Homo sapiens: one gene and its partners. The protein of the gene in region 5 purifies or fractionates together with the protein of the main gene of each other region. This does not show direct contact. Each region holds a gene or a part of one and is shown on either strand. Other genes may lie near its edges. The genes, in order: DDX11, MADD, ZNG1A, MELK, SNX21, EIF2A and TANGO6.

The links.
Region 1: the proteins of SNX21 (region 5) and DDX11 purify together in Homo sapiens (affinity purification with mass spectrometry; 2 studies listed by BioGRID and IntAct, with this or other methods). This does not show direct contact.
Region 2: the proteins of SNX21 (region 5) and MADD purify together in Homo sapiens (co-immunoprecipitation; 3 studies listed by BioGRID and IntAct, with this or other methods). This does not show direct contact.
Region 3: the proteins of SNX21 (region 5) and ZNG1A purify together in Homo sapiens (affinity purification with mass spectrometry; 2 studies listed by BioGRID and IntAct, with this or other methods). This does not show direct contact.
Region 4: the proteins of SNX21 (region 5) and MELK purify together in Homo sapiens (affinity purification with mass spectrometry; 2 studies listed by BioGRID and IntAct, with this or other methods). This does not show direct contact.
Region 6: the proteins of SNX21 (region 5) and EIF2A purify together in Homo sapiens (affinity purification with mass spectrometry; 2 studies listed by BioGRID and IntAct, with this or other methods). This does not show direct contact.
Region 7: the proteins of SNX21 (region 5) and TANGO6 purify together in Homo sapiens (affinity purification with mass spectrometry; one large-scale study listed by BioGRID and IntAct). This does not show direct contact.

What each region holds. Positions count from the first base shown.
Region 1 is NC_000012.12:31,090,860-31,094,359, reverse strand, and holds part of DDX11 (ATP-dependent DNA helicase DDX11), read right to left. Parts: intron 2,642-3,500; coding exon 2,489-2,641; intron 1,515-2,488; coding exon 1,468-1,514; intron 1,116-1,467; coding exon 1,036-1,115; intron 1-1,035. UniProt on the Homo sapiens protein: DNA-dependent ATPase and ATP-dependent DNA helicase that participates in various functions in genomic stability, including DNA replication, DNA repair and heterochromatin organization as well as in ribosomal RNA synthesis.
Region 2 is NC_000011.10:47,325,633-47,329,132, reverse strand, and holds part of MADD (MAP kinase-activating death domain protein), read right to left. Parts: intron 2,590-3,500; coding exon 2,581-2,589; intron 2,396-2,580; coding exon 2,326-2,395; intron 476-2,325; coding exon 429-475; intron 88-428; coding exon 1-87. UniProt on the Homo sapiens protein: Guanyl-nucleotide exchange factor that regulates small GTPases of the Rab family. Converts GDP-bound inactive form of RAB27A and RAB27B to the GTP-bound active forms.
Region 3 is NC_000009.12:123,697-127,056, reverse strand, and holds part of ZNG1A (zinc-regulated GTPase metalloprotein activator 1A), read left to right. Parts: intron 1-3,360. UniProt on the Homo sapiens protein: Zinc chaperone that directly transfers zinc cofactor to target metalloproteins, thereby activating them.
Region 4 is NC_000009.12:36,666,895-36,670,394, reverse strand, and holds part of MELK (maternal embryonic leucine zipper kinase), read right to left. Parts: intron 1,086-3,500; coding exon 989-1,085; intron 1-988. UniProt on the Homo sapiens protein: Serine/threonine-protein kinase involved in various processes such as cell cycle regulation, self-renewal of stem cells, apoptosis and splicing regulation. Has a broad substrate specificity; phosphorylates BCL2L14, CDC25B, MAP3K5/ASK1 and ZNF622.
Region 5 is NC_000020.11:45,832,652-45,836,598, reverse strand, and holds the start of SNX21 (sorting nexin-21), read right to left. Parts: upstream 2,801-3,947; 5' UTR 2,680-2,800; coding exon 2,659-2,679; intron 2,399-2,658; coding exon 2,131-2,398; intron 1,641-2,130; coding exon 1,483-1,640; intron 1,422-1,482; exon of another isoform or gene 1,006-1,421; coding exon of another isoform or gene 922-1,005; exon of another isoform or gene 909-921; coding exon of another isoform or gene 906-908; exon of another isoform or gene 1-905. UniProt on the Homo sapiens protein: Binds to membranes enriched in phosphatidylinositol 3-phosphate (PtdIns(P3)) and phosphatidylinositol 4,5-bisphosphate. May be involved in several stages of intracellular trafficking.
Region 6 is NC_000003.12:150,553,287-150,556,786, forward strand, and holds part of EIF2A (eukaryotic translation initiation factor 2A), read left to right. Parts: intron 1-3,500. UniProt on the Homo sapiens protein: Functions in the early steps of protein synthesis of a small number of specific mRNAs. Acts by directing the binding of methionyl-tRNAi to 40S ribosomal subunits.
Region 7 is NC_000016.10:69,077,531-69,081,030, forward strand, and holds part of TANGO6 (transport and Golgi organization protein 6 homolog), read left to right. Parts: intron 1-3,500.

The DNA of each region.
Region 1 (3,500 bases), on a different chromosome or scaffold from region 5:
TAAGTTCATGTTTTTCACCCCTTCTCCAGGAGGCCGGGACACAGCAGCCAGACCAAGGTATGCAGGGCACCGGAGCACAGAGGAGCTGCCCAGGCCACTGGTGAGCCTGAGGCAAAGCAGAGCTGGTGGCTCAGAGCAGCAACACGAGACCAGCTCCCGCCAGGAGCTCCCACAGGCTTTCTGCAGCTTCCACTTCCACAGACGCCTTCCAAGGGGGTGCCCCATCATAAAAGAAGGGGACGTGACAGGGTCATGCAAAGAGGCGTGGGAGCTGGAGTCAGAAGATCCCAGGCTCCCGTGCTGGGAGCAGCCCTTGCTCCGAGCTCTAGTTTATGCGTCTATCAACAAGGATTCAAATACCAGCACTGCGTTCTCACAGGGCACACAAAACCGCATATGCAAGTGCTTCGAACAACCCACAGAACTATGCCTATCACGGAAACACCGTGTGTCTATGTGATGCTGTATCCTTAATATCCCCCCAGAGCAGGGCCTGAAATAAAAAGTCCTCAGAACATGGGCAAAGAACCCATGGGTCTAAATAAAGCTCAAGTCAGACAACTCAACTAAGCTACAAAGAACAAGAATTTTCTAAATCAATGACCAAGACCCTTCTTTTTTTTTTTTTTTTTTTTTTTTGAGACTGATTCTCACTCTGTCGCCCAGACTGGACTGCAGTGGCACAATCTCGGCTCACTGCAACCTCCGCCTCCCGGGTTTGAGCAAGCAATTCTCTTGTCTCAGCCTCTGGAGCAGCTGGGACTACAGGCCACGGCAACACTCCCAGCTAATTTTTTTGTATTTTTAGTAGAGATGGGATTTCACCATGTTGGCCAGGCTGGTCTCAAAACTCCTAACCTCAGGTGAACCACCTGCCTCGGCCTCCCAAGTGCTGGGATTACAGGCGTGAGCCACCGCACCCGGCCGACCCTTCTTAAAAACACAGAGAACTGAGGTGTCCTGATGGGCATCCAAGGAAAAAGCAGCCCAGCGAGTTTTGCAGGCCCGGGGTCAGCAGGGGGACGAGGCTCTCACCCCCTAGCACAGCCACGAATTTCTCCAGCAAATACAGGATCTGCTTCAGGTACATCAGGTTCTTGGCCTTCAAACGCTTCCTGAGAAGAAGCCAACGGACATTAAGTGGTGGTGCCCTGATGGCGACTCGCCCCGCCCACCCCAGTGGAAGCCTTGCTGCCCGGTGCCTCTCAAACTGGGTCACAAGCTACAAATCCTTTCCCAGAGAGCAGGCTGGCCACGGCCCCAGGCCTCAGAGCCAGCGGTCAGTCCCCAGCCTTCCAGGTCTGTGTGCAGCACACACCATGATGTGCCTAGGACATGAATGGCATGCAGCTCCACCCCGCCACAGCCCGGGCCAGAGGTGGGAACCAAAGTGCTGCCTGCCTCTCAGAGGCCCACGCAGGGGGCCACCAAGGGACTGTCCCACTACCTCAGAGGGTCACATCTCACCCGTATCGCTCCACGTACTGCAGCAGCTGGGAATGGGCCTGGCAGAGCTGGGGAAAGAACACAAACCAGGCTCTGAGCAAGCAGCTGAGGGCTAAGGTACTGACATCTTAGATTCACCTAGAAGATGCTGGCCCTGGACACACAGGAAGCCACCAAAGGGAGGAGAGGGGGCTGGCTGCAGACAAAAGGTACGGGTTTCCACAGCCCTTAGGCTGGTGGGAGCTAAGAGAAAAGGGAAGGAAGGGAAGTTTTCCTCCAGTGTCCACTGTGGGTCAGAGAAAAAGCAAGAGGCTGAATTCCTCAAGTATGGAATCTCCCTGCTAAGTTTCCACCGGGTTGGGAAAAGACCTGGAGTCTACAAAGAGTGATGGTTCAAGGCCACCATCACATCCCAGCCTCAATTCAGCCCAGGCACAGGTCAGTAGAGCTGGTGGGATGTCGTGGGGGTTTTCACAGTCAGAAACCAGTGGGCACACCCCAGCTCCACACTCATGAGCTGCATGACCTCAGGACAGAGCTTGACCATCTTTGAATCTCCAAGTTTCCAATGTAAAACAGGAACACCACACCCATGGCAGAGTCAGCGTGAAGACCAGAGACACCTGGTGCCATGCATGGCGCATGATAGGGCAGCAGGAGGAGCCTGCGCTGATCTTGAGCATTCCTCAATTCAGTCCCCTCCAGACAACTTCAGTAATGACAAAATCCAATCCTGAGGGGACTTCTGCCTCACACATGCCATCTCCCTGGCTTACAGAACTGGCTGCTGGCATCCAGGGCTGGAGGGACTCAGGAGCATGGGGGCAGATGAGGTGCAGGGAAATGAGGCACTCTGTCATAGCGGGGTCCCCCGATGCACTGGAAAGCCATGGTCAGCCTCCGATGAGGTCACCGCCTTGACTCGTGCACCCTCTATCAAGCCCCACCTCCGGAGGAACTCTTGGCCCAGGTGTCTGGAGGAACCATCCAAGTCCCTTTACGTCACAGCAGGCCCTGGCCCGGGGAGGGGAGGCCCACACACCTGGGAGCCGCTGACCTCCACGCTGTGCATGCCCGTGATGGTGTCGATCAGGTTGTGCGCCTCGTCGATGATCACCACCTGGTCCTGCAGCCGGATGCCCGCGGCCTGCCGAGTGGCCGCATGCAGCAGCATCTGATAGGGCAGCACCACCAGCTGGGAGGGGAGATGAGGCCACCTGAGCAGGGCGGGGCTCCCCTGCAGGAGCCTTGCCTGCCTGACACTGAGCTCCTGATGTGAGTGCTTCTATTTCCTGCCTGGACTGTGTAGAGACATTCGAAAAACAGCTTGTGGCAACGGACAAGCTCTCCTCGAGTTTCACATGAAAAGCCAATACATGAAACACAGGAAACTAGGGCTGGTCTGACTCCTGAGTAAACCAAGGGCAGGGCTGGGTGAAGGGAACCCCTGCTTAGCCTTGTCCATGTCCTCAAGGTCGCCCCGGAGGCCCCCGAGTTTCCACAAACACCTGCAGACCATCGGTGCACCAGGAAGCGGCCCCAGCTTCTACTCCTGGAGCTGCTACTCCCCAGCTGTGTGACTCTGGAAGAGTTGTCTAACCTCTCTGACTCTTGCTTTCCTCATCTGCAAAATAGGGTTGATACATCCTATTTCAAAGTGAGGGTTAAGGCGTGGAGCTGGGGTAACAAAAATAAAAGCAACTCTGCACATCTTTAGGTGTTTGTTGTTAGGAAAGTTTCCAGTTAAAGGAATACTCATATAAAAAATAAAATATCGGAAAACTGAATGGCTCCATCACCCACGCTTGGTGAGAAAATATGAGTCACTTAACTTTTCTGGGCTCCAGTGTCCCCATGCACAGAATTTCACTGGAATACTATTAACATAAAAGCAAAATATGGTCAAAGTACTTTAAAAATTCAAAAATTGTAAAGATTTTGGGCCATATTATGGTATTTGTGTATAAATGCCTATAGCACTAATCTTGCTCTAAAGGCAAACAGACGGGAGGGAAGGCCTGGGACACCATGGGGCCTGGCAGCTTTCCTCAGTT
Region 2 (3,500 bases), on a different chromosome or scaffold from region 5:
GGGCGGGGTTCTGAGATCTTCCTCACTGCTATGAACTGCAGCCACGTACGAGAAGAGACATAATACGGAGTAGCAGATTTCGTGGGCCTAGAGGAGAGAAAACCAGGCGGATCACGATACTGAGACTCCTCCATCTCCATATGTGAAGGATCTGCCAATGGGCAACTCCTGCCCTAACACTGGGCATGGGCCTCTGGGCTAAACGTGAGCTCCAAGCAAGGAAGCTGTCCCCATGGGAGAGGGGATCCGTGTGTGTGTGTCTGTCTCTCAGGGCTCAAGACCTGTTTCAGCCTGAGTTGAACCTTTGGCAACAAAACGAGGTCCCCACTCACCCCTGTGCGCTCAGAGGGCCCTCCCCTCCTCCTGTCCGAAGGTCCCCCAGGGAGCCCTGCGCACCGTGGCCCATCAGGGTTGAGCGGCACACTCACCATTGGTGTCTTGTACTTGTGGCTCACCACTTCTTTAATTTCAGGAACTAAAACCGGACGGGCAAGAGACAAAACAGAAAGTTCAACACTAAGAGCAATCGTGCCATGCTCCCCCAGGCGGCAGCGCCCGGCGTCAGGGTCCCCTTCCCCTCTGTGGCCTCTCACAGTGGCTGCAGCAGCTTAGGCTATGACAGGGCAGAGGCCACCAGAGGCTCTGTCCAGACTCTGCCAGCTGGGAGGACATGGCCCTAGCCTCCTCAGCTAGGCCTCTGTCATCCGCAGTGGCGTTTACTTGATGGCCGTGATTCTACCCACTTCTTTGAAAGCCCTGGATGGGAGGGACGGGCCTTTCACCAGCCTGGTCACAGCTACTGTCCAGGGCCCCTGAGGAGCTGCAGTGGGGAATTCCCAGGTTTTGGCTGGGAGGAGAGAGCTCTCTCTAGCTTGTGTCCAACTTTGCTGAGACACCCGTGAACTCGTCACCAGCCTGAAAATTGGGTCATGTTAAACACAGTTCCCGTTATTCCCAGCCCCCTACACAGAGGGTCTTGAGGCTGGATGAAGAGGTAACATGATATAAACCCACAGGATGTGGCAGTGTCCTTCCCTGAGTGGCAGGAGAAGCCCAGACCTGCCTGTGTGAGGGAGAGCGTCTGAGGGCTCTGGAGCAACACACCCAGCAGAAGACAGGCGAGTACAGCACCCAGGGAGGGAGGTGACAGGGAGCATCAGGCAAAATACACACATGTCCACAGCCCAGAAGGCAAGAGTGAGAGTCCCCCCGCTCCAGCCATGCAGGGGTTCTGCTTGGCCAGAGGAAGGAGTAGGCCCCCCAGGCTCAGCCACCATCATGGCCCCTTGAGACTGGGAGCAGAGGGGCCTGGCATCTCCCTGGGGGCCAGAAAAGGCAGGAGGAGAATTGGCCGTACCTTCTTCTGACCCTGGGAGGTAGAATTTGGGGGAACCCAGGGTCAGCAGGGAATAAACTCATCAAAGGTAGAGCAAGAAGCCCCAGGCCATTCTCCCGAGTTGGAAGATTCCCCCAAGTATCTCTCTGACAGAAGAGAGAAGGGAACACACGGGGAGGAAAGTCCAGTGAGCCGGTGAGAAGGGGGAGGCAAGGTAGGAAGAAAGAGGGTAGGGGAGAAAGGAAGAGACGAGCTGGCAGTGTGAGGAGCTGGTTCGATGGGAGCTACCCACCCAGGGCAGGGCCCAAGGCAGAGACCTGGGGAGAGGCAGCACGAGCCGAGGTCACTTTACCTGCTGGAGAACGAAGGTTTTCATAGCAGCGATGAGGGGCACAAAAGAATGAAGCACAAACACAGCAGGAACTCAAAGCCCCAGGGTGAGAACCCACTACACCACTCCCTAGCGCTGGCTCCCAGCTTCCGGCTACAGCTGTCCCGCTAGACTCCTCTGTCCCTCAAGTGAGTCTGCCTGCGACGCCCGGTGCCCCTTTGTCTGGCACAGAGGCCAGGTGGAGACCAGAGCGGCGCCAGGGAGGCTGGCTAGCGCACTGGGCTGCTAGAGAGATTGCAGCAGGTGACATGGACATAGTGGAGCTTGGGGGTCGCCAGTCTGCTGTGTCCCAAACTTTCTGACCACTGGCTGGCCCAGCACGGGGAGGTGGTGCTACTTCACTGAGCTGCTTCAGGACCACCTCTAAACTCGAAACCCACCTGAGGCCCCATTTGCTCTTCTGCGATCCATTATCTATCTTTCCCTTCCACATCCCGGCTCTCATCTCAGGGGTCCCTTTTCTTCCTTGTCACTCCTGCTCCTCCTGACTTCTCTACAGAGGTTCTTCTTCTCCCTGCCCCTAGACCCTCCTCTGGAGCTCCGAGGTTTGAGTTACTGCCATGTGAGTCCAGACCTAAGAGCAAAATAGTGTAATTACCAAATTCCTCCAGGACAAAGACGCCTCGAACTGTATTGCACTTTTTAATGTGATTCAGCTCTATGAAAACCTGCAAGAGAGGGAGGGAGGCCGGGGTAAGGCCCACAGGCTCCACCCCTGCCCCACACAGCACACTCTCCCAGCTACAGCCCCACCCACACAAAGAAAGTCTATTTCCCAAAGAGAGGACAGAAGAATCCACACGCACACAACTCAAAAGCGCTAAGAAGCGAAGATAGCAGAAAGGGCATGTACCTTCCGCTCCTGGCCGGAGGAGAAAGCATGGGAGAGAAATGAAGGCGTTAGTTTGAATGGTCAAACCCAACCCGAAGGCCCTGCTGCTGGCCTGGGCTGCCCGCCCGTACCCTCTGCCCAGGGCAGTGCTTGTAAGACACAGTGCCCCAGGGGTCCCCACTCAGCCCATTAGGTCTCTACCCTTCCATGCATCCTCCTCCGGCGCAGAGGGCTGGCACGGGCGCAAAGCTCCCCTCAGACTGTCCTCAGGGTGGGAGGTGTTGGTATCCTCCTTGAAACAGGATCCAGGATCTCCCAAGAGGTATGTGGTGATAATAATATCAGCTACCACTTGCTGAGCACCTACTTGGGGTTTTACAAATACGATTTCTAATCTCTGCACCTACTACGTGACACAGTAAATAGTATTACCCCCATTTTCTACATGAGGAAACTATGGATCAGAAAGTTTCTTTGCCCATGAACGTGGAAGCTGGGCTTCAAATCCAAGCATGTCCTCACACCGAAGCCTGTGCTTTTCCCATTTACCCCAGACTGCACAGCTCCACCAGGAGGTCTGCTGCCTCCTCCACTCCAACTGAACACTGTGTGGCAGAATAGGGGGCAGGTCGCTATCTCATTACTAACTGTGAGGTGAGATTGAGAACCCGGGCTTTCCTCCCCTTCTCTGCAGTCTATCTTCTAGGGGCCAAGCCTTCAACCACAGACTGGCTTGGATGGCTGCCCAGTGGGGCTATGCCAAGGGCAGGACGAGGAACAGGGCAGAGCACCTGGGCGTTGCTCAGCAAGATCTCATCTTCAGAGGCCACGGCGCTAAAATGTGGTCAGAAGTCTGCTCCCCAAGAAGTACTGACACCTTTGTGGTCCAGAAAAGCACTTAGGTAGACCCCTCTCTGGGATGGTCCTAAGGTCTTTGGGGT
Region 3 (3,360 bases), on a different chromosome or scaffold from region 5:
AATTATATCAAGCACTCTGTCAGACCACAGTGGAATAAAACTGGAAATCAACTCCAAAAGGAACCTTCAAAACCATGCCGATACATGGAATAACCTGCTCCTGAATGATCAGTGGGTCAAAGATGAAATCAAGATGGAAATGTAACAATTCCTCAAACTGAACGACAAGAGTGACCCAACCTGTCAGCCTCTGGGACACAGCAGAGGCGGTGCTAAGAGGAAGGTTCACGGCCCTGAGCGCCTCCATCAAAAAGTCGGAAAGAGCACAGACAATCCACGGTCACACCTCAAGGAACTAGAGAAACAAGAACAAACCCAGCAGAAGAAAGGAGATCAGAGCGGAATTAAATGAAATTGAAACAAAACAACAAAAAAAATCCAAAAGATAAATGAAACAAAAAGCTGGTTCTTTGAAAAGATAAATAAAATTGATAGACCGTTAGCAAGATCAGCCAAGAAAAGAGAGAAAATCCAAATAAGCTCAATAAGAAATGAAACGGGAGATATTACAACTGACACCACAGAAATACAAAAGATATTCAAGGCTACCATGAACACCTTTACATGCATAAACTAGAAAACCTAAAATAGATGGAGAAATTCCTGGAAAGATACAACCCTCCTAGCTTAAATCAGGAAGAATTACCCTGAACAGACCAGTAACAAGCAGGGAGATTGAAATGGTAATTAAAAAATTACCAACAAAAAAATGTCCAGGACTAGACGGATTCACAACAGAATTCCACCAGATATTCAAAGAAGACTTGGTACCAGTCTTAAAGACACTATTCCACAAGAGAGAGAAAGAAGGAATCCTCCCTAAATCATTCTATGAAGCCAGTATCACCCTAATACCAAAACCAGGAAAGGACATAACCAAAGAAGAAAACTACAGACCAATATCCTTGAACATAGATGCTAAAATCCTTAAGAAAATTCTAGCTAACTGATTCCAACAACATATCAAAAAGATAATCCACCATGATCAAGGGGTTTCATACCAGGGATGCAGGGATGGTTTAACATACACATGCGCGTAGCCAAAGCAAGACTAAGCAAAAAGAACAAATCTGAAGGCATCACATTACCTGATTTCAAACTTATACTATAAGGCCATAGTCACCAAAACAGCATGGTACGGTTATAAAAATAGTCACATGGACCAATGGAACAGAATAGAGAACCCAGAAATAAATACTTACAGCCAACTGATCTTCAACAAAGCAAACAAAAACATAAAGTGGAAAAAGGATACCCTTTTCAACAAATGGTGCTGGGATAATTGGCTAGCCACATGTAGGAGAATGAAACTGGATCCTCCTCTCTCACTGTATACAAAAATCAACCCAAGATAAATTAAAGACTTAAATCTAAGACCTGAAACTATAAAAATTCTAAAAGATACCATTGGAAAAATCATTCTAGACATTGGCTTAGGCAAGGATTTCATGAACCCAAAAGCAAATGCAATAAAAACAAAGATAAATAGCTGGGACTTAATTAAACTAAAGAACTTTTGCACAGCAAAAGGAACAGTCAGCAGAGTAAACAGACAACCCACAGAGAAGGAGAAAATCTTTCATAATATATACATCTGAAAAAGAACAAATATCCAGAATCTACAATGAACTCCAACAAATCAGCAAGAAAAGCAGTCCCATCAAAAAGTGGGCTAAGGACATGAATAGACAATTCTTAAAAGAAGATATACAAATGGCCAATAAACATATGGAAAAATGCTCAACATCACTAATGATCAGGGAAATGCAAATCAAAACCACAGTGCGATACCACCTTACTTCTGCAAGAATGGCCATAATAAAAAAATCAAAAAAATAGTAGATGTTGGCATGGATGTGGTGAACACGGAACACTTCTACACTGCTGGTGGGAATGTAAACTAGTACAACCACTATGGAAAACTGTGGAGATTCCTTAAAGAACTAAAAGTAGAACTACCATTTGGTCCAGCAATCCCACTACTAGGTATCCACCCAGAGGAAAAGAAGTCATTATACGAAAAAGATACGTGCACACGCATGTTTATAGCAGCACAATTGGCAATTGCAAAAACGTGGAACCAACCCAAAGGCCCATCAATCAATGCGTGGATAAAGTAACTGTGATATATATGCATACAATGGAATACTCCTCAGCCATAAAAAGGAGTGAATTAATGGCATTCGCAGTGACCTGGATAAGATTGGAGACTATTATTCTAAGTGAAAGAACTCAGGAATGGAAAACCAAACATCGCTATGTTCTCACTCATAAGTGGGAGCTAAGCTATGAGGATGCAAAGGCATAAGAATGACACAATGAACTTTGGGGACTCAGGGAGAAAGGGTGGGAAGGGGATGAGGAATAAAAGACAAAAATTGGGTGCAGTGTATACTGCTCAGGTGATGGGTGTACCAAAATCTCACAAATCACCACTAAAGAAGTTAACCAACACCACCTGTTCCCCAGTAACCTATGGAAAGAAAGAAATGTCTCATATGTTTCTGCCTAAATTGGTCTTTAATACTTTAGCGATTCTCTTGAGTTTGGATTATAAAATAGTTTTGGTCTTTTTGTATTTTCTGCTGTAAGCCTGTATGATTATGTAATGGTGAGTAAAATTGCTAGGCCAGATATGCAGTTCTAGGAAGTTATGCAAAGATGTGCTTTAGTATATTATTTTCTACCTTTTTAAATTCATTTTGAGCTTGGCTTTTGAGCCTCTATTTTCCAAGGTGGGGTGTATGTTTTTATAATGTTATGCTTAGCCCTTGTGTATTTTCATCTCTGAGTTTGAAATTTGGGGTTATATTGGCAAAGGGAGGTTTGGGTTTTAATTAGGTGACCTGTTAGAGGAAATGTTAAGCTTCTGTTTCTTTAGGGTAGACAGTGAGAGATTTATCAAGATAAAGAAGAAAAATAAATCCTAAAGTTAATATTCAATACATGATGATGTCCCCCTTACTAAAGCCAAAGAGGGCATTATCCTATCATTCTCATCGCTAAGAACTCTTCTCCTCTTGGCACATGCTTATTCAGTTAAAGATAAGCCAAGCCTTTCTTTTGTATTTTTTTTTAAGAGAACAGATTTACTTTGGTTTTGAGTTTTATTCCTGGCTCTGGGTAGCTTATTTTTTTGACCCTTATTTTCCCCAATTTATAAAATGAAATAGTTATCTTCACTCCCCAGGATTGTTGTGAAGAGTAAGTCAAAAGATAAAATGAGGTGACTCAGGCAAAAGTACCTGGCCCTGTGTAGTGAGTACATTGTATGTGTTACATATATTCTTATTGCTGAGAATCCACGAAAGAATGAATTAAATAATGAGGACCCCTTCATCAGGGTTTTTGAGTGAGTTT
Region 4 (3,500 bases), on a different chromosome or scaffold from region 5:
TGCTGAGAAGTTTACGTTACATATGGCTGTTTATTAGGCATATTTTATCCTTTTGTTCTGAAATTTTTCTGGTTGGAGATAGTTAAGTATTTCAAGCACTGACACTGAGATTTAAAAAAACCATAGTACCATTGCACTGAAAAATGTTAAATAAAATTAAGGAAACTAGTTCAACCACATATATACACATTATTGAGAAGCTAAGCAGTTACCAAATACTAACGGATAATGTTCTAAAAATGGTCAGTTATGTAAATATTTTGGAACCTGAATGCATTTTTCAATAGAAACTACTGTGGTGTTAGTTGGCTTTCTAGGTAGTTCTCCAGCACTTCCAGACTGTGGGAGAAAAACCATAAGATTAGGAATGAGAAGACCTGGGTTCTGGCTCCAGCTTTGTACTATATAGCTTTGATAAATCATTTTATTCCTGATCTCCTCAGTTTCTTCATCAATAAATTAATAATAATTCCATAATATCATCTAATACCCTGTCCACATTCTAATTCTCCAATTGTCTTGAAAATAGACAATGCCTTTAAGAAATTGCTATAAAAGAATAGCAACTTGAAGAGTTACCTATGCTGCAGAACTTTTCATACAGAGGATTTTCTTTGAAACAACAGTATCTTTACGATTTGGGAGGACTACAATCTGTTAGAGGATATCTGTATTTTACTGGCAGAAGAGAAGGGTAAGATGGGCCTCAGAGAGGTAACTAGTTGGCTGGGGTGAGGACCACTGTCTTCCCAGCCTGTTGTACTTAAGGTGCCGTCCTACTGCTGATCAGTTTCATGATTCTACCCCATGAGGAAGGCAGTGGCTACAGGTCCAGGAATGGCCACAGGTCATCCACACATAAACAGATATTCCTACTCTCCAACAGAATCTATGTGATGATTTACCTTAATCAGGTCTATTAATACATGAAAAAGGAAATCTGGTTACATATACTAAAGATTAGAGTCTAAAAAAACCAAACACTTACCGCCTCTCAGGGCTAATGACACCTGTCATTAACTTGTCTGTTCCTGTTGAATTTACTGGTATTTTAATTGGAGTTTCTTTCAGGCACTGGTTTCTAGCTATTAGAAACAGAACAAACACAATCCATATGCAGCACATACTATGGTTCTGAAATTTCTATTATTAATAATAATGCAGGTATCACATTATTCATTGACTCAGAAACAGTATAATCACTTGACCTGTGATGTCGAAGGCTCTAATTCTTTCAAGAAATGTTTCCATGTGATTTATAATAAAAACAAAATCATTTTGCTTTGTATGTGTGGCTCTTCTTTTTTTTCTTCACTGCAAATTTAGGCCATGCTTTTAATTTTATTATAAACATCATATGATAAATCTAAACAGATCATATAAATACAAATCTCATAATTACTGATTCTTTTTCTAAAAATAAAAGTCAATCTGTATTTATACAAGGGCCCAATTTATGCTTTTAATTGATCTAGTATTAAAAGGTGTTAATTGAATTCATAGCCCGATTCAACTCATGTTAGGCAAAAAGAACAGACCCCTGTGAAAGCTTGACATAAGTTATTAAAGAGATGTAAGCTTTGGCCAGGCACAGTGGCTCATGCCTGTAATCCCAGCACCTTGGGAGGCCGAGGAGGGCGGATCATGAGGTCAGGAGTTCGAGACCAGCCTGGCCAACATGGTCAAATGCCATCTCTACTAAAGATACAAAAAAATTAGCTGGGCGTGGTGGCGCACGCCTGTAATCCCAGCCACTTGGGAGGCTGAGGCAGAAGAATCCCTTGAACCCAGTAGGCAGATGTTGCAGTGAGCCGAGATCGCGCCATTGCACTCCAGCCTGGGAGACAGAGCAAGACTTCATCTCGGAAAAAAAAAGAGATGTAAGCTTTGATTATTTTTTATATTCCCTGTTCCAGAATTTTGTGTTTTATTCTAAGTAGGGTATTTGCATTCCAGATAGTTTATGACAAATTTGTACTAACGAATCTGGTTATACTGATTAGCTCATGATCTAAAAGTTTTATACCCTTTAGAGATAATATTCACACTATAAAAACAAAGATATAATATCAAAATTTTAAAAGAGATTAGGGGCTTGGTTTTGTTTATGACTATTTGGCTACATTCTCACTTTCCACAAGAACAAGAAAATAAGAGCAATCAGAAATATTTATAAAAACAGTTTTCATCTTTGTATACAGACAGTATCTATCACCATACAGAACTGCCCTTCAACAAACTGCCAATGCCTGCATTGTGTAGGAGTGACGAAAATGAAATTTATGTTTATGTCAAAAATAACTCACAATGAAAGTAAAATGCAGGTCTGGGCATGGTGGGCTCACCCCCGTAATCCCAGCACTTTGGGAGGCCGAGGCAGGTGGATCACCTGAGGTCAAGAGTTTCGAGAGCAGCCTGCCCAACATGTTGAAACCCCATCTCTACTAAAAATACAAAAAATTAACCGGGCATGGTGGTGCGCACCTGTAATCCCAGCTACTCAGGAGGCTGAGGCAGGAGAATCTCTTGAACCTGGGAGGCGAAGGTTGCAGTGAGGCAAGATCATGCCACTGCACTCCAGCCTGGGCAACAAGAGTGAAACTCTGTCTCAAAAAAAAGAAGAAAAGAGAAGAGAAGAGGAGAGAAGAGAAAAAAGAAAAGAAAGAAAAATGCAAAGTGCCAGTGGAAGCTAACAATCATGGCTTCAGCCACTTGCTTCCTTAAGTGGCTCGTGTTTAAAAAGAAACAACCAATAATAGCTTTGACCAACACAATCTTTCTCGTCATGACAACATATGTCAACTGATAATATTTCAAGATTATAAAATAAATTCCAAACTACCCATATTGCAAAACCTTCAGAGTTACACAAAAAGTAAAAAATGTCAATAATGGAAGGGATTATGGCATTAAAATTTTTTTTAAATAAAAAAGCCCTGGGCCGGGCACAATGGCCCACGCCTATAATCCCAGAAATTTGGGAGGCTGAAGAGGGCAGATCACCTGAGGTCAGGAGTTTGAGACCAGCCTGACCAATATGGTGAAGCCCTGTCTTCACTAAAAATACGAAAATTAGCTGAGCGTGGTAGCAGGCGCCTGTAATCCCAGCTACTAGGGAGGCTGAGGCAGGAGAATCGCTTGAACCCAGGAGGCAGAGGTTGCAGTGAGCCGAGATCGCACCACTGCACTCCAGCCTGGGCAACAGAGCAAGACTCCAACTCAAAGAAATTAAAAAAAAAAGAAAAAAAGGGGAAAAAAAAGATCGTTGAATGAGCTAAGGTGAGCTGAGGTCCGTTTTATCTCCCTGCCCAATCTCATGAGTCACAAAGGGTACTGTATTTACAGTAAGAGAAACAACAGAACAGAAAGAGACCCTTTCATTGGGAAAGAATGCAATAGCAGCTACCATTGCAGGGTAGAGGCTATCTCACTGAATTCTCATAACAACCACAGGCAGCGCCACCGCACCCCCCCACACACACACCATCACACACACACAC
Region 5 (3,947 bases):
AGCCCAGTTGGAGGTTGTAGTGAGTTATGACTGCACCACTGCACTCCAGCCTGAGTGACAGAACGAGACCCTGTCTCAAAATTTTTTTTTTTTTTTTTTTTTTTTTTTGAGACGGAGTCTCGCTCTGTTGCCCAGGCCGGACTGCAGTGGCTCGATCTCGGCTCACTGCAAACTCTGCCTCCTGGGTTCACGCCATTCTCCTGCCTCAGCCTCCCAAGTAACTGGGACTACAGGCGCCTGCCACCATGCCCGGCTATTTTTTTGTATTTTTAGTAGAGACGGGGTTTCACCGTGTTATCCAGGATGGTCTCGTGACCTCGTGATCCGCCCGCCTCGGCTTCCCAAAGTGCTGGGATTACAGGCGTGAGCCACCACGCCCGGCCTCAAAAATTTTTTTAAAAGACTCAATAATCGGAGTCGGTCCCTGCTGAAATTGGAGTAGTCACCCCATGGGTGTGGCCCTTGCTTACTAACAGCAACAGAAAAGGGTGGAGAGGCCCAGATGTGGGACTGGGCTCCAGGCCCCCTCCTGCTGAGTCAGAGGTGGAGAAGGGTGGTGAAGAGGAGGGGAGTGAGAGATGGAGAGCTGCCACTGACAGGAGTGGCCAGCTCAGCTGGCTTTCAGGCCTGGCCTGAAAAGGGACTGGAGCAGGAGTCGCTGTGGGCATTAAAGGAGCAGACCTCATTCTCCAAGTCAGTCTCTCAACAGCAAGGAAAACAGCAAGGGACTCCAAGGTCCTCCCCAACATTGCTCTTCATCCTAACCTCCACCAACCCTCTAAGTCTAGCCCTTAGGGACAAGGTCGGGTGCTTGAGAACTGATTGACCTGTGCGTTATAAGGACACAGCAGGCCCTAGATGACAAACATTTTCAACCCAAAGTTAAATAATGATGACATAGCTACCATTTCATTGACCACGTCATAATGCCAGGCACACTGCTAAGGGCTTTTTGTCCATTGTCTCATTTAACTCCTGCTGTAATCTTCTGCATTTTCCCCATTGCTATAATGAGGAAACGGAAGATGACCAAGGTTAAACAACTCACCCAGAGTCAAACAACTGGAAATAAGTGGGAGTCAAGATTGGTCTGGATCGAAAGCCTATTTCCTTAACTACCAGCCCATGCAACTTGGATCTCAAGTTTGACCCAGATAACATCTGTCTCTCTGTATCTCACATCTTGCTACAATTTGCAAAAACCTTGTGGGCTGGGTGGGGAAGTGCACACACCAGTTCTCTTAGTCTCAAAACCAGGTTAAGAGGAAGGTCCTTAATCCCCACTTCAGTCAGTCTCAAGGAAACTAAGTCTTGTGTGAGGATTTGCTCAAGTTACATCCCCTTTCTGACCTCAGTTTCCCCATTTGTAAACAAGGTAACCATTTATAACTACATAGACCCCTCAGGAAGTTGGGGTCTTCCCTACTTGCTCCTAGCCATACTTCTGGACTCACAGCCCAGGGGTTCTAGACCCTCACTCACCACGTACTTGGAGGGCGGGTCCTTGACAACGTTAGCGCTGGTCACTTCGAAGAGCAGCCGCTGGGGTGCCAAGGTGTTCCGGGACTTCTTCCAGAAATCCTGCAGCTGCCGCGCCAGGAGCTGACTGCCCCACTGCCCATCAGGTGGGGGGCTCCGTTCTGCAGACACATGACCAGTCATATCAATGGGCCTAGGGCCAGGGTCGACATCAACCACTGACGTGGCCTCACTCATCCTCCCAGTGTGAGGCAGGACTTACCCCCTTTTTACAGAAATGGAAACTGAGGGACAGAGAGGCACCGAGGAGCCAAACACCGTGCCTGGCAGACAGTAGGGGCTAAATTAATAGCTCCACCCTCAAAATATCGTTAATACATCATTTCCATTCGGATCCCAAGCCCTGTACATTTAATGCCTGCAGCAATTCTGAGATGAGAGTGAGTTCTCCCACTTGACACAAGGGAAAACTTGGCTCAGAGGGGGGTTAAGACTCTCTCAAGGTCACACAGCCAAGAGGTGGCCCAGGCGCTTTAAGAAGTGTGGGAGTTTCAGCTGGATCAACTTAGCGCCCTGGATGCTCTGGGAACGCGGCTGGGATGGAGGCCTAATCGAGCCCCAGGGTTCCCGCCTCCGTCCTCCTGCACTCGCCTGCGTCTTCTCCTGACGTCCCATCCCCGAGGGGCAGCTGGTCAGGGCCAGCCTCCTCGTCGTCCTCGTCCTCGTCGTCCTCGTCGTCCTCGGCGCTGGTGAAGCTGAGGGTGCCGCTGAGTCGGGAGGACAGGCCCTCGGCGTCGTCGTCCTCCAGCTCTGAGCTCTCCGGAAACTGCTCGGCCTCTGGACTGGCCGCCGCCTCCCCGGGGCCGTCGCCGGCCAAGGCGTGCCGCAGCCGGTGCAGGAGCCGGGAGGCCATGGCACCCTGGGGGGAGCGCGCGACGCTGTGTACCGGATCCCGGAGGAGGGGTACCCCAGCCCGGCGCAGGAGGAGGAGGGGCGGGGCCCGAACCGGAGAGGGAGGGGCGCGGTGAGGCCCCACCCCCTGGCAGTCCGAGGTCTTGCGAACCAGGGGACCCAGCCAGCATCGCTTTCCCCCCAACCCACTCAGCCTAGGACCGCGTTCCTCCCCGGAGGGGCTCAGGACCCTCCCGATGTCTCTTGCGCCGCCTCGTGCGCCTCTACCTCCTGCGTCCCACGGTGCATTCAGGGGCGCGCCGCGCCCCAGGGGTCCGGGTGCAGCCCCCCGCAGCCCATGGAGGTCGGCCGGGTTCTGCAGGGCTCCGCCGGGCTCAGGCCGCTCAGAGCGCCGCTCGGGCAGCTTCCTGCCGCCGCCCCGCCTCCTGCCCCGCCCGCTCGCCCGAGCCGCCCGAGAATCCCGGGCCCTTGGCTCCAGGAGGGACTTGGGAAGCCTGGGTCGGCCTGAGGGAGTCCCAGGCCTGCCGCAGAGTCATCCCAGTCCGGCCAGGCGCGTACCCTCCTTGAATCCTCCCACCCCACCCACGTCATCTCCAATCTGTCCCACTCATTTCCACCCAACGCTCTTTAACTTCACAAAGTAATTATGCAATAGTAGGGAGGCCATGTCTCCCGAGAGAAAACGAAGGGCCAGGAGAAGATGCGTGATTTGGGTTGGTTGGAATCTGACCTCGCTGAGCCTAGGTTTTCTCATATGTAAAACAGGAACAATACTGCTAAAACTAATTTTGCAGCTCTTGTAAGAACGCTCGTCCCGTGCCTGGCATAGAGCAAAGGCTGACGAAATGATCACTTACATAATGATTATTGTTTCTACAGTGTTCACAGGCTTGCACAATCTGATTTGAACCTCACACATGGGAAGTAGGCAAACAGGGAAACTGAGGACCAGAGAGGGTGAGTTACTTGGCTTAACCACACAGCTTGCCAGAGGTTTCTTTCTTTCTTTCTCTCTCTCTCTTTCTTTCTTTCTCTCTCTCTCTTTCTTTCTTTCTTTCTCTTTTGAGATGGAGTCTCACTCTGTCACCTAGGCTGGAGTGCAGTGGCACCATCTCTGCTTACTGCAACCTCCGCCTCCCTGGGCTCAGGTCATCCCTCCCACCTCAGCCTCCCCAGTAGCTAGGAATAGAGGCGTTCGCCACCACACCCAGCTAATTTTTGTATTTTTTGTAGAGATGGGATTTGGCCATGTTGCCCAGGCTGGTCTCGAATTCCTGGGCTCAAGTGATCCACCTGCCTCTGCCTCCCTCAGAGGTTTCTGAGTATGGGGCCTGGAGCCCAGGTCCCCTGCTGCATACTGCCCTTTTCCTGTGCAGCAGGCCTGATAATCTCAGTGGCTCCCCAGCTTTGTTTTATCTTTTATCCGCAGGGCAGCTGCAGGTCAAGAAAAAGTTATTGTGGCTTCCTGTCACAAAGCCTAGGTATCAGTTGTTAGGGCAGATTTTGATAGTTATACAATACAATAAATAAAATCAAAATCTCTCCAAAGTAGCTCC
Region 6 (3,500 bases), on a different chromosome or scaffold from region 5:
CACTCCAGCCTGGGCAAAAAGATGAGACTCCGTCTCAAAAAAAAAAAAAAAAAAAATTGGGAAACTAAAATAAGTGATTCTAGCTTTATATCAGGTTGGTGGCATAACCATGTGAAGACCTGCAAAATTCTTTTTTTTTGAGACTGAGTTTTGCCCTTGTTGCCCAGGCTAGAGTGCAGTGGTGCAATCTCGGCTTAATGCAACCTCTGCCCCCCAGGTTCAAGCGATTCTCCTGCCTCAGCCTCCCAAGTAGGTGGGATTACAGGTGCCTGCCACCATGCCTGGCTAATTTTTTTGTATTTGTAGTAGTGACAGAGTTTCACCGTGTTGGCCAGGCTAGTCTCAAACTCCTGACCTCAGGTGATCCACCTGTCTCATCCTCCCAAAGTGCTGGGATTACAGACGTGAGCCACCATGCCTGGCCTAATAGTTTTCTTTTTAACTGAAAGTTGATATTGTCATTTGAATCTACTATAGGATAGAGTAAATTAATTGTATTAATGTTGTTAGGCACCAAGATTTTTCAGCATTAGAGTGAAAAGATAGACTTGCCTATATCAGTATGAACTCATGATTTCCTTTCATAAAACATTTGCATTTCCTAGTTCTGGCCAATGAAAAGGCCTGGAAGCAGTGATAACACAGTAGCAGTGAATACCCCATCCTCACAGATTGTGATCTCTAAATACAATTCTTCACTAAAAGGAACCACTTCCTTGGAGAAGTGGTCAACTCTAGGTCTGGGACAGAAAATGTACAAGTTGAGGTAGCAACTTTTGTGCCAGAAAGCAAAGCTATAAAAGACTAATGAGATTTTGTTAAAGGGTCGTAGGAAGCAACTTGAAGAGATTCACACCAACCTAAGATGGGAACATTAAGAATTATGAATAGAAAGATAAAGCATGTCAAGTATATAAATGCTCCCCCGAAAAATCCCCCCTCCGTTTAAACCTAACTGGTCAGCATTGGTGGTTGATGGAGTCCTCACTCATTACTTTGAAAATTGATAAATAAAGGGAAGGAGTCAAGCATTTATCTTGCCTTTCTTATACAAACTGTTTCTCAGAGTAACCAAGTGGTTGATGAGAAAAAGAATTTTATAGACGAATTCCAGTTAATAAATGGAGAATGGATGCTGGATCAGACAATTACCATTTTGTAATCCTCAAGAAATGGATCTAGGCCACTGGTTCTCAAACTTTACCAAGCATCAGAATCATCTGAAAAGCTCGTTAAAATCCAGATTGCAGCTCTCTTTCCAAATGTTCGGATTCATTAGATCAGCGGTAGGGCCCAATAATTTGCATTTTTAACAAATTCCCCAGTGATACTGATGCTGCAAATCTGGGGACCCCCCTTTAAGAACCACTGATCTAGGCAGATGATCATCAAAAGATGCTGAAACCTTTAGCTGAACTGTTTGATGACTGTTAATGGGGAACTTTATAATCAGGCTGTTGTCATCTGACTCTACTGACCAATTTTTATTAGGCCCAGTTCTCTAGAACCTTGCTACAGGAAGCATGGGCCCAACCAAGACCAACTATATTGGCATCACTCCTGAGCCAGTACAGAAATGCATCTCAGGCCCTACCCAACTTACTGAATCAGAATCTGTATTTTAGCTAGATCTTCAGATGATTTATATGCACTTTTTTTTTTCCAGAGTCTTGCTCTGCTGCCCAGGCTAGAATGGAGTGGTGTAATCATGGCCCACTGTAGCCTCAATCTCCCAGGCTCAAACAATACTCCTGCCTCAGTATCCCAAGTAGCTGGGACTATAGGCGCATGCCACCATGCCTGGCTAATTTTTGTATGTTTTGTAGAGATGGGGGTCTCACTATGTTGCCCAGGCTGCTCTCCAACTCCTGGGCTCAAGAGATCCAACCGCCTTGGCCTCCCAAAGTGCTGGGATTACAGGCCTCAGCCACCATGCCTGGCCTGTATGCACATTATTTATTTATTTACTTATTTATTTATTTTTTTTGAGATGGAGTTTCACTCTTGTTGCCCAGGCTGGAGTGCAATGGTACAATCTCGGCTCACTGCAACCTCTGCTTCCTGGGTTCAAGCGATTCTCCTGCCTCAGCCTCCCAAGTAGCTGGGATTATAGGCACCTGCTACCACACCTGGCTAAATTTTTTTATTTTTAGTAGAGACGTGGTTTCACCATGTTGGCCAGGCTGGTCTCGAACTTCTGACCTCAGGTGATTCACCCTCCTTGGCCTCCCAAAGTGCTGGGATTACAGGTGTGAGCCACCACACCCGGCCATGTATGCACATTAATGTTTGAGAAGCACTACTCTAGAAAACCCAGTCTGGCTGGGCGCGGTGGCTCATGCCTGTAATCCCAGCGCTTTGGGAGGCCAAGGTGGGTGGATCACTTGAGCCCAGGAGTTCAGGATGAGCCTGGGCAGTATGGCAAAACCCCATATCTATTTAAAAAACAAAAAACAAAAAAAAAACTATGGCAAAGTTATGTGCTACACTTCATTAGGGTATGCAGTCCCAAGGCTGCAGGAGTAGGGGAGAAAGGGAAATGAGACAGGGAAGGAGTTAAAGCAAGTATGATGGGATATACTGAGGTGACCACAAATCCACAAAATATAGCCAACTTGCTTGGTCATGTGTGCAAAATTTTTGTCTCCAGAAAGGCTGTATGGAACATTTGTACTTCAGAACAGTCTGTTGTGTGGAGACAGGGTAAGAAGTTTACTACAGCCTCTTAGCCTGTTTGGGTTGAATCTGAGTGCCAGAGCTCCTCCATGTGCTGCCGCAGTGCATGGTGGAAGCCATGTGGAAGTATGGCCCTTAACTCTGCAGATTCAAAGACAACCAGTGGCGTTAGGAGATGAGGTCTCTTCATTGAATAGTTGAGGCGTGGCAGCAGGAAGAGTTAGGTAGATACAAGGAGGCACATGACTGAATCCAGTACAATCTCAGTATCACTAAGAGTAGAACAGAGAGATATTTATGTGTCTCCTGGTGAGTTATTATACAGTAGGAACTGTGCTGTACATATCTTCTACGAAAGTTAAAAAAACTTCAAACTCAGAATTTAGTCAGTCTTTTACATGAGTAGTTCTCAAATGTGGCTGCACAATAGAATGACCTGGGGAGCTGTTAAAAAACCCAGATATCCAATCCAAGTATTGGGTATTAAATGATATTAAGAAGTTAATTTTGTGAGATGAAGTGGCATGGTGGTGATTATGTTTTTAAAAAAATATACTCACTGGTTAGAGATGCATAATCAAGTATAGAGCAATATGATAATGACATCTAGTTTTTGCGTTGGAATGTTGTGGCATGAAAGATAAAAGTGGGGAATAGATAAAATTGGCTCTGAGTTAATAGTTACTTAAGCTTGATGATGAGTGCATAGGTGGATTATCATACTTTTTCTCTATTTTTTGTGTATGTTTGAAATTTTTCATTCAAAAAATTATACCAGAAGGAAAGAGGCAAAATTTCCCAATTGCCAAGACCAAGAAAATAAT
Region 7 (3,500 bases), on a different chromosome or scaffold from region 5:
AAAAGGCAAGGCTGCCAGGCATGGTGGCTCACGCCTGTAATCCCACCCAGCACTTTGGGAGGCTGAGATGGGTGGATCACTTCAGGTCAGGAGTTCAAGACCAGCCTGGCCAACATGGTGAAACCCTGTCTCTACTAAAAATACAAAAATTAGCCGGGCGTGGTGGCACGTGCCTGTAATCCCAGCTACTCGGGAGGCTGAGGCACAAGAATCGCTTGAACCCAGGAGGCGGAGGTTGGCAGTGAGCTGAGATAGAGCCACTGCACTCAAGCCTGGGCAACAGAGCGAGACTCTTTCTCAAAAAAGAAAAAAGAAAAAAAGGCAAAACATGGCCTCAGTGTCAATAGTACTTACCATCTAGAGAGGAAAACCTTTTAAAGTACACAATAAATATTTATTTTATTTTTTATTTGTTTATTTTTTATACCACCAGCCTGCCCCACAACAAATATTTACATTACAGTCCTGATAGGGGCTACAAACAGAACTCCGGGAAGGGCAGGAAGACTTACCTAGGTGCGGGGGTTAGGGAAAGAATCCCGGAGGCCAAGGGTATAAGAGTCCTAGGAAGAGGAAGCAAAATATTAATAGCCTCCCAGGCTGAGGGACTAGCATATGCAAAGGCCTTGAGAGGAGCTTTGTTCAGGCAAGAAAAGAAAGAAGGCCGGCACAGCTGGAGCACAGGCGGCCAGAGGGAGGCCCGCTGTGGGGAAGGGTCGGCCTGGGGAGCTTGTTCTATGTAGCCCTTTCCCCTGACTTCCTGCCTTCACTCCCCAGTGTCCATGCTGATCAGGAATATCGAAAGATGGAAAGGCTCTTGCTCTCTTCTTATAGCAAGTCCAAGACACGTGGTGCTAGACACAGTCTACTTGGTGGAATGCTCAGGGGACTCTGGGCCCAGACCATGTGCTTGTTACCCGCTGAATTAACTATTTCCCATCATTTCCATTCGCCATCTCCAGTGAACTTTCCTATTCCTAAAATGTGGCCTCTCTTTTCTCTGATGTCTCATCACTCTCTCTCTGCTCCCTGTGACCTTTACCATGTTCTATTCTGTATTGTCTGTCTTTACGTGACTATCTTCTTATTCATCCCCACTAGACCAGAAGCCTTTTAAAGGCAAGATCTAGATGTTTCCATTGTTAAATGGCCTTACAAAGTCTTTGCGTAGAGTTGACTAAGTTAAATATACGTTTCTGTATTTTATTTTATTTTTATTTTTATTTTTTGAGACAGAGTCTTGCTCTGTCACGCATGCTGGAGTGCAGTGGCGCAATCTTGGCTCACTGCAACCTCCAGCTCCTTGGTTCCAGTGATTCTCCCATCTCAGCCTCCTATCTCAGCCTGGCATTACAGGCATGCACCACCACGCCCAGCTAATTTGTGTATTTTTAGTAGAGACAGGGTTTTGCCATGTTCGCCAGGCTGGTCTCGAACTCCTGAGCTCAGGTGATCTGCCCGTCTCGGCTACTGCACTCCAGCCTGGGAGACTTGGTCTCAAAAATAAAATATAGGCTGGGTGCAGTGGCTCATGCCTGTAATCCCAGCACTTTGGGAGGCCAAGGTGGGCGGATCACCTGAGGTCAGGATTGCAAAACCAGCCTGACCAACATGGCAAAACCCTGTCTCTATTTTTTAAAAAATTCAAAATTAGCTGGGCATGGTGGCGCATGCCTGTAATCCCACCTACTCCGGAGGCTGAGGCAAGAGAATCGCTTGAACCCGGGAGGCGGAGGTTGCAGTGAGCCGAGATCGCACATTGCACTCCAGCCTGGGCAACAAGAGCAAAACTGTCTCAAAAACAAATAAATAAATAAATAAATAAATATAAAAGAAAATAAAGAAACCGCATAGTATAATGGCTAAAATTATAGGCCCTATTTCTTTTAAGCAAAACACAAAATCCAGAAACCACAAAGGAAAACATTTGATAAATTTAACTACATCAAAAATGGAAATTTCTTCACCAGAATAAAAAATTTCACAAAGAAAAAATGCCAACTGGGAGAAAAATATTTGCAACTCATATGACAGATAATGGACTTAAAAAAAAATGGAGTTTTTACGAATCATTAAGGAGAAGCTGAATTATACATACCAGAAAAAAATACAAATTTATGTTTATATATTTGTTGGAAGTATGCAAATTCATAACAGCAAAATGCTATTTTTTTCTACTGGATTAGCAAAAATAAGGAGTTTACAATACATGGCACTGATAAGAATATGGGGAAACAGGAATTTTCACAGTGTTTGAGGAAAATGTAAATTCTTGGAACCTCTCTGGCCATATCTATCAAAATTGTAATGCGCATTACCCTTTGAGCCAGAAATTCCATTTCTAGATATTTGTCCTACAGATATACTTGTACATGTCTGTAATGACCTAAGTATCAGAATGCATATTGCACTGGGCACAGTGGCTTATGCCTCTAATCTTGACTACTCAGGAGGCTGAGGTGGGAGAATCACTTGAGGCCAGGAGTTCAAGACCAGCCTGCGCAATATAGCAGGACCCCATCTTCAAAAAAATGTTTATTGCAGCAATATTTGCAATAGCAAAAGATAAAAAGAATTTAAATTACTTTCATTGGAAAGATGGTTAAATAAATTGCATTACATTCATCCTCTGCAGCTATAAAAAATAAGTTATTTCCATATGTGCCAATTATACAAAGGATCTACAAAACATGTTAAGTGGGGGAAAAAATATGGTACACAACAGAGCGTAGAATATAATTTTGTACTTTAAAAAGGTAAGGGAAGGCTGGGCTTGGTGGCTCATGCCTGTAATCCCTACCTCTGAGGTGGGAGGGTTGCTTGAGCCCAGGATTTCAAGACCAGCCTGGGCAACATAGCAAAAAAATAAAAATGCCAAGCATGGTGGTGTATGCCTGTAGTCCCAGCTAACTTGGGAGGCTGAGATGGAGGATTGCTGGAGCCCAGGAGATTGAGGCTGCAGTGAGCTATGATTGCACTACTGTACTTTAGCCTGGACAACAGAGTGAGACCCTGTCTAAAAAAACTGGGGGAGAGGGGACAAGAAACAGAAATATACACATGTGTGCTTGTAAACACTTAGAAAATGTCTTCATATGAATGATGTCCTCTGAGAAGGGAAACAGCTAGGAGTCTGGAGTAGAACAGAGCCTTACCTTTTAATATGTACTCTTTTGTACTGTATTATCTTTTCAATAAAAATAAAAAATAAGAACACAGGCTCTGGATGTTGGAAACCTGGCTCCATCATTTTTTTAGCTGAGTAACCTCAACCCTCTAACCCTCTGTTTCTGCAAATATAAGATGGGGCTAATAACCTTCCTCTAGGCCGGGCGCGGTGGCTCACGCCTATAATCCCAGCACTTTGGGAGGCCGAGGCGGGCAGATCATGAGGTCAGGAGATCGAGACCATCCTGGCTAACACGGTGAAACCCTGTCTCTACTAAAAATACAAAAAATTAGCCAGGCGTGGTGGTGGGCACCTGTAGTCCCAGCTACTC